2 linked regions of the Homo sapiens genome follow. The protein of the gene in region 1 purifies or fractionates together with the protein of each later gene. This does not show direct contact. Each region holds a gene or a part of one and is shown in the gene's direction. Other genes may lie near its edges.

Region 1 (3,751 bases):
ATGGGGACAGGGTGAAATGTTCATAACATCTGGGCAGCCCCTGATCTGAGAAGCAGCGAATGTGGAGCAGAGAGGATCCCTCTGTCGTATCCCATCTCCTTCATCCCTCATTTCCTTCGGGATCAATTCCTCCCCTGCTGGGATTGGAAGCTTCCTGGGCAGCCTCTTATTTTTCCCTAATCATGTTTTCTTCCGTGGGTCTGATCCTTTCCCACCCGTGCTCCTTCTTTTCTGCCTTGCAGTCTGCTTTAGATGGTGCCTGTTTCCTTTTTAGTTTCTGACCATCCTCTGGGAAACTAAAGTTCTTCAGGAGGCTGAACTTCTCCTTCCTTGGAGCATCAGAACCAGGTAATGAGAACACCTTTCCAACTTCAAGACCGAGTTCACCTGGTCTGTTGATTTGCTGCTCAGCACTGCCTACCCAGTAGATGCCTGCTGGCTTCAGGGGAAGCTCTCTTCTCTCCCCTTTCTTCTTCCCACTGGGAGGGCCGAGCTGCTGGTCAGGCTTCCCACAAGAGTAGTTTGGCTCTGCCCTGGGACTATGGTCTTCCTGCTTACGAAAACAGTCGGAGGGGAACTTCATCTGTGGGTTCCTATGTCTGCTTTCCCACAGAGTCTGAAACTGCCTTCTTACCCCTTTTGATATAGTTGGTCCCCGAGGTTCTTAATACTTTGGCACAATATCTATGAAGGAATCCCTTTAAACAAGAGAAAATGCTACCCTGAGTGAGGGGTGGGTCTTCAGGCTTGGGATCTCAGACTTGGCTACCTGAGATCCAAGAGATCCAGAATTCTCAGCCTTTGGGGCTTCACATTGAGTTATTTGAAAAATGGGTAACATATTGGCCATTTTTGGTTTTTAAAAGGTAGAAAAACAAAAAACCTAACCAAACAACAACAACAACAAAAACACAAAAAATGCAGAACAGGGATCGGGGAAAAGGAATTTGCTCTCATGTTCCTGACTGCACGGGTGAGAGTTGGCATCTAACAGAAACAGCTACTCCCAGGAGGAGCCCCCGGACCAGGCTGGGACGCAGTCTGGGCATGGCCAATGGTGCAGACCCCTGCCTTCACCCCTGAACACACTCCTTGGCTTGCTTGCTTTTCATAGCATCCTACGGGTCTTATATACTACACTGAGCATGATACTCTCCGAAACTGGGTTGGAGAAGGGAACAAATCCTTAACTATCTAGCCATGTGTCTCCCGTATGTCTCTCTGGGTCTATACATAGACTCATCTCATCATTACTAGGTTTTGAGTTAATATTATTAGCTCCATTTTACAGATGAGAAAACCAAGTCTTAGAGAGCTTGGCAGAGGTCACATAACTTATTAGAAACTGAGCTGGGAATTTGAGATGGTTCTGTCTTTCTACTACACATGCGGTTTTGCCCTTCCATGTGGCATTTCTCCACGTCATCTTTCTCTTTAGCCCTGGCTGGCCTTAGTGGTTCAAGGTGATCCACTGCCTTGCATTATCACCAGCTCACACCCCGCTCTGGATTGGCGTGAAGATTTTCACTTGAGTGTGTCACTGAATGATGCCATTGGAAGCTTCTGCTGATAAGCGTGGGACCATCTGCTTGGCACATCTCAAATATTTTCAGCAGTGGGAGAGCAGCTCTGATTCCTTCAGAGATGAGAGGCTGCAGCCATCCTTCGAGATGTTGGGACCGGAGACCCTGCAGGCTGGCTGGGCATTGATGCCCCAGATGTGAAGGGGCAGCCAACCTGTTGGCCACGTCTGACCCTTCCTGAGCAAATGACACCAGTGAGTCTGCGTCCCAGTTTTTCATTGCTTAGCTGTCCTTGACAACCAGAGTAAGATTTTCTCTCTTTAAAAAGCTATTTCTTGGATAACTCTTTTCTGTGCTGGTTTTTCTTTCTTTTATTTTTTTCGGTGTGTTAGATGTTTGCCGTTGGTGTGTGTTGGCAAAAACTTCTCTTTCCTCCTGCCTTTGTTTTGGAAAATTTACTTCTTTGCTGAGTTAACTGTTCCCAGACATTGTTTTTCAACTTCAGGGTTGAAACTTCGCAGTAGCGTTTTCTTTTTTAACTCGTTGCAGGGGAAAGAATCTTAGGATCAATTCACAGTTTGAATGGTGGACTTGGAGGTTTTCAAGGCTGCTTAATGAAAGCTTATGAATGATAAAGAAGTTGAGGTTTGAAAGAGTTGTTACTGAATTTGATTCCTCTGGAGAAATCACTTGGCTATCAGCTCTTTGGCATCACAGGGGCAAGCTGTATTGATTTTTCTTCATTTTTCCTTAGTGGGCACTGGCATCAGTATTAGCTTCTGTTGCTTATGAAGCCGTATGCATTCCTTTGGTGACAAGATGTCTGTTAAAAGGAATCTCCTGCCCAGTCTTGATCTTTGGTATGAGCGTCTTAGCAACACTTCCCAGCCAGGATACTTAGGAGTAATTTGGTGAGAGAATGTATAGTGTGTTGTTAGATTGCTATGGGTGCAGCAGTAAAAAGGTGGTAAGAAGCTGGCCTCTAGCAGAGTGCCACGGCCTCGGCACTACTGGCATTTTGGGCTGGGTAATTCTTTGCCGTGTGGGCTGTCTTGTATATTATAGGATGTTTAGCAGCATCTCTGGCCTCTACCAACTAGATACCAGTAGCACACTCCTCTCCATTGTGACAACCAAAAATATCTTCAGGCATGCCAAACATCCCTTAGGGGACAAAATCACCTTCCCCCCTTTTAGACCAGGGCTCTAAATTGATCCTGTGGTATGTTTGGAAAGGGAGCAAGAAGTCTCTGCTTCTGCGTACAGATGGCCCTAGTGTGGGGAAGACGGGAATGATGCATTTAATACCAGGACAGATGGTCCTGCCCTGTACATTCCCATCGGAGCCCTTGCCTGCCATGGAAATTCCATCTCACAAATGGGTTTCTGTTTGTCCAGGTGACTGCACACACACACAGGGAAGAATTTGCCCTTTTCTCTGGATCTGCACACCTAGAAATCCAGCCTAGGGTCAGGCTGTCTTTTAAGTTGCCTGGGAACAACAGGCGCTTTCAGATGGCCCACTCCCCCAGCCTGAGTTTTATTGGCTTTTCTCTCTTTCCTTTTTTCTCCCTGCCTTTCTCCCCAGCCCCCTCTTTCTTTCTTCTAAGAGTGATGTCCTAGGCTGGGTATCTGGGGCCATGGAAGGACTGTGCTCAACTGAATGGGAATGTGGAAGGGGTTGTTTGCTTCTGAGGTCTCTAGAGAACACTTGAGCAGCATAAATGTATGGCATTTAGAACTCTCTGCTGACTCTGAGTCTCCTTGTTTTTTCTATCAGCTCCACCACCCATCTGTTCCTCTCACTTTCATTGAGAGGTAATTGCAGCCAGCAATCTCAGGTGGACCTGGCAGGACACAGGCTCTGCAAAGCCCACATCCTTACACATCAATGGAAACCACCATGCTTGTTTTCCCTGCTTGTTGATTCATTATCTCAGTTTGGCATTTCCATGAGACTCATATTGGCAAAGTGCTGTTCAATCTCTAGCATTTCTTATACCCCAGCCTTTCAAACTACATTAAAATGCCAGCATGTGAAGCAGTTGAGACCCAGTGGGGTTAATCTGCTTGATGGAGGACTTGCCTCTCATGGTCAGTTTGACTGAAAGTGCAGCTCCCAGGCCAAGCAGCCGTAGGCACAAGCAGAATAGGCTGTGGCCTCTGCACTGTACTTTGATCAATGTCAAAACCCCTCTTCTCAAAAGTCTCTTCTGCATTCAGATGCG
Region 2 (3,651 bases), on another chromosome or scaffold:
ATTATACAGACATCTGTAGAATGAATAGTAGCTTCCCTTAATCCTGTCTTCCCAAGACAATATCTTAACGGTCATGTGTTTTGGAATGCGTTAACCTCTGTGTGCTAGCTTTCTATCTGTACAGTGGCAATACGGAGGCAACCGCAGGGGTGTGAAGGCATGTGGAATGCACACATGCGTAGGGCTGTGCTTCACATGGACAGTGCTCGGTGCACGCTTGCTGCTGTTGCAGCAGGAGGTCTTGGGAAAGGAGAATTTGGAGAATTTGCCATCGGTGTATGGATGCTGTTTATCATTACTGTGTGGGTGCCTCCTTCTCCACATTCTCTCCAGCGCTGGGAATTCTCATTCTTTGTGGTACTTGCTCCTCTGGCGGGTGCACAGTTGTGAGCTCCGTGCTTCCAGTCATCCTACCCAGTGTTGGATGTGGGCTGGGCTCGAGGTCTGGGGTCCTCCAGGACTGGAGCCCAGGAGAGCTGTCAGGGAGGGTGAGAGCACAGAGTGGGGTTGAAGCCCCCCGGTGTGCCACCATCGAGAGAGAGAGTACATCCAGCGAGCAGGACAGGGCCCGAGGCCGGCTGGGGACCTGGGCCTGCTTCCACGGCCTCATCACCTTTACCATGCTCCATCTGCTCCATCTACTTGAGGGCCCAAAGTCACCGGCACTCTGGCCTGTGTGCCCGCCTCCTGGGCCAGCAAGCTCCTAATCAGTCTACAATGCCCCTTTCAGCTCACATGAATCCTCTCCCACCAGCGAGGCCCCCATGCTCTGACGACAACACAGGGTCACAGTGATACAGCAGCTGTAGCAAACCAAGCATTCAGGAGGCAGGTGAGAGCAGAGGGATCCGTGTGCATGAGCCAGAGACAGCTTATTCTTTTTTTTTTTTTTTTCACACAGAGTCTCACTCTGTCGCCCAAGCTGGAGTGCAGTGGCGCGATCTCGGCCCACTGCAAGCTCTGCCTCTCAGGTTCACGCCATTCTCCTGCCTCAGCCTCTCGAGTAGCTGGGACTGCAGGCGCCCGCCACCACACTGGGCTAATTTTTGTATTTTTAGTAGAGATGGGGTTTCACCATGTTGGCCAGGATGGTCTCAATCTCTTGACCTCCTGATCCGCCCACCTTGGCCTCCCAAAGTGCTGTGATTACAGGCGTGAGCCACTGTGCCCAGCCGACAGTTTATTCTTAACCATGTTGTTTGTGGTCTGTAGTTCCCAGTCATCCTAGGGCCAATCCACATCTCACAAGTGGGAAGACTGGGGCTTGGAGAGAGGAAGTGATTTGCCCAAGACCATACAGCAAAGAGCGGCAGTGCGGGGTGCCCAGCCGGGCATGCGGGCTCAGCTCTCTCAGACCTGCAGGATGTGCAGTGAGGACCGACAGCCCCTTAAGCTCTGAAGGCACAGGGGCTGCTGGCCAGGTTAGCAGGGGCCACCAGACAGGACGCTCCTGCTGCCTCCCCCCAGGTCCCTGCAGAGGCCTGGCCCCAGGAGTGAAGAGAGGGTGCAGGTGACCCCCTCTGCCCAACCCCAGCTCAGCCAGCAGCTCCGTTGCTCCCCGCCAGCTCCCTCCAGTCTGCAGCCTGGCTTCTGGCTGCCTTTGTCCTCCTGGGCTCAGCTGCCCAGAAAGTGTGTGTCCAGCTGGCAGGCCTGCCACACAGTCCCCGTCTTCCCAAGCACCCCAGGGAGAGGGAGAAGTAGGGCCAGGCCCAGGGTGGCCACCGCAGGGCCATGCTCTCTGCCAATGTGGAGGGGCCCCAAGCTGATGGATAATCCCAGTGCCATCCCTGTGCCGGCTGTGTTGGGCCTGGGGACAGAGCCATGGGCTGATGACACCCCGGCCCAGGAGCCGCTTGATGACTCGGACCCTCCACGTGCTGTGGGTCAAGGCCAGAGTGGGGATGACATGCTCAGCTGGGGGCAGCAGTTTGCCGGGCACAGAGGACGAGGGAGGACAGAGGACACAGCCCAACCGGGCAGGGAGGAGCCTGCTGGAGAGCAGGGGCCTGGGAGGCTGGTGCTCAGGGTGATGGTTGAGAGAGATGGCAAGGCGAGGGCAGGGCTGCGAGGATGCAGCTAGTTCTACCCTCAATCTCTCATGCCGGCCCCTTCACCTCTGCACCAGGACCTGGACCCAGCCATGCCCTGTGGACTCAGCCATCATTCGGAGAGCAGCTCCCAGAAACCAGCTAAGGCCAGCGCTCACCCACACTGCCCCGTAGAGAGGGCCGGGACCCTGTCCCACCAGGGTATGGCACAGCCAGCCCATCTCAGTCCCATCCTGGTGGGCCCAGAGAGGATTTGATGAGAAAATATGGGTTCTGTACAGAACAAGGGACGCAGGACACGCAGGTGTGGAGCCGAGGGAGGGGCCGACTCCCACATCATGGGAGGAAAGCAAGGCTGGCTCTCCCAGCAGCTCTCACTGGGCTGGGCTGGGTTTTCCCTCCGTTTTCAGGAAAGAAGCTTTTGAAAAAAACGGCATCATTAGCTTAAAGGGCTTTGCCCTCAGCCAACTAGGGCATGAAGCCAGATGGAGGCCAGGCCCCAAGGAGGGGTGTGGTGGAGGCCACTGGGGCACAGGGCCCAGGCAGCCATGTGCCTCCTACGTGGGCCTTCCTGCCTGCAGGGGTCTCTGAGGCTTCATGCTAGGGGCTAGGAGGAAGGCCGGGCTGGGGTCTGGCCTGAGCCTCTGCCCCCGGCCTTTGGAGGGGAGCCTGGTCCTGGGGCAGGGACCGACCTGGACTCAGCCAGACTGGGCTCCCACGTGGCCACCTGCTGCTGTGAGGCCTGGCGCCTCAGTTTCCTCACTCGCTGACCTGGCTGTTGAGCCCTCCCTCCCAGGCTGCTGTGAGGATCAAATGAGGCAGTCGCAGCCGGCCGGCTGCCCCCCACCTCGCTCGCTGCTAGTGCCTAACCCATGGGACGTTCCCCCACCCTGCCTGGCCCTCATGGAGGGGTGCCAGCACTGCCCAGGGGAGGTGCAGGACCCTCCTGTGCTGCTCCCACGCCCGCCACGCCTGTGGCTGACGCCAAGGCCCCGTGGCCCGAGGACGGAGGGTGTCCTGGGGCTGCTGACAGTACAGAGAAGAGGAGGTATGCATTCTGGCCTTTCTGACCTCCACCCGGTGCCTGCCCCAACCACGCTGCTGCAGGCTTGGGAGCCAGGGCTTTGCGGGGCCTCAGGGAAGGAAGAAGCCAGTTCCCGGGCCAGGAACAGGAAGGCAGGGGGAGCGCAGCAGAGGCCAGGATGACAGTGCTTCCTGCTGCGGGAAGGGAAGGACAGCAGAGACAGACAACAGCCAGGCAGGAAGGATGCGCCTTCTTCAGGGCTGCAGGTGGGGGCTGGGCAGTCACAGAGCCTCTGGACGTGGCAGGCTGCAGGCCTGAATCTGCCCAGGGAGCCCATCCTATAAAACAGGAAGCATCTTTTCCAGTGGAACAACAGGGTCTGACAAGAGTCTCTGAGGTTTCAGAGGTCTGTTGAGCCATCCATCCATCTACTTTCCATCCATCCAACCATCTAACCATCCACCCATCCATGCTTCACCCATATGCCCACCTTTCCACCATCCATTCATCCTTCCATCCAGCCATTCGTTCATCCTTCCATCTGCCCGTCCATCCATCCTTCTGTTCAATCTACCCATC

The links.
Region 2: the proteins of MAS1 (region 1) and FLT4 purify together in Homo sapiens (affinity purification with mass spectrometry; 2 studies listed by BioGRID and IntAct, with this or other methods). This does not show direct contact.

Annotation. Positions count from the first base shown.
Region 1 is NC_000006.12:159,889,357-159,893,107, forward strand, and holds the start of MAS1 (proto-oncogene Mas), read left to right. Parts: upstream 1-1,631; 5' UTR 1,632-1,777; exon of another isoform or gene 1,778-1,827; intron 1,828-3,751. UniProt on the Homo sapiens protein: Receptor for angiotensin 1-7. Acts specifically as a functional antagonist of AGTR1 (angiotensin-2 type 1 receptor), although it up-regulates AGTR1 receptor levels.
Region 2 is NC_000005.10:180,639,450-180,643,100, reverse strand, and holds part of FLT4 (vascular endothelial growth factor receptor 3 isoform 1 precursor), read left to right. Parts: intron 1-3,651. UniProt on the Homo sapiens protein: Tyrosine-protein kinase that acts as a cell-surface receptor for VEGFC and VEGFD, and plays an essential role in adult lymphangiogenesis and in the development of the vascular network and the cardiovascular system during embryonic development.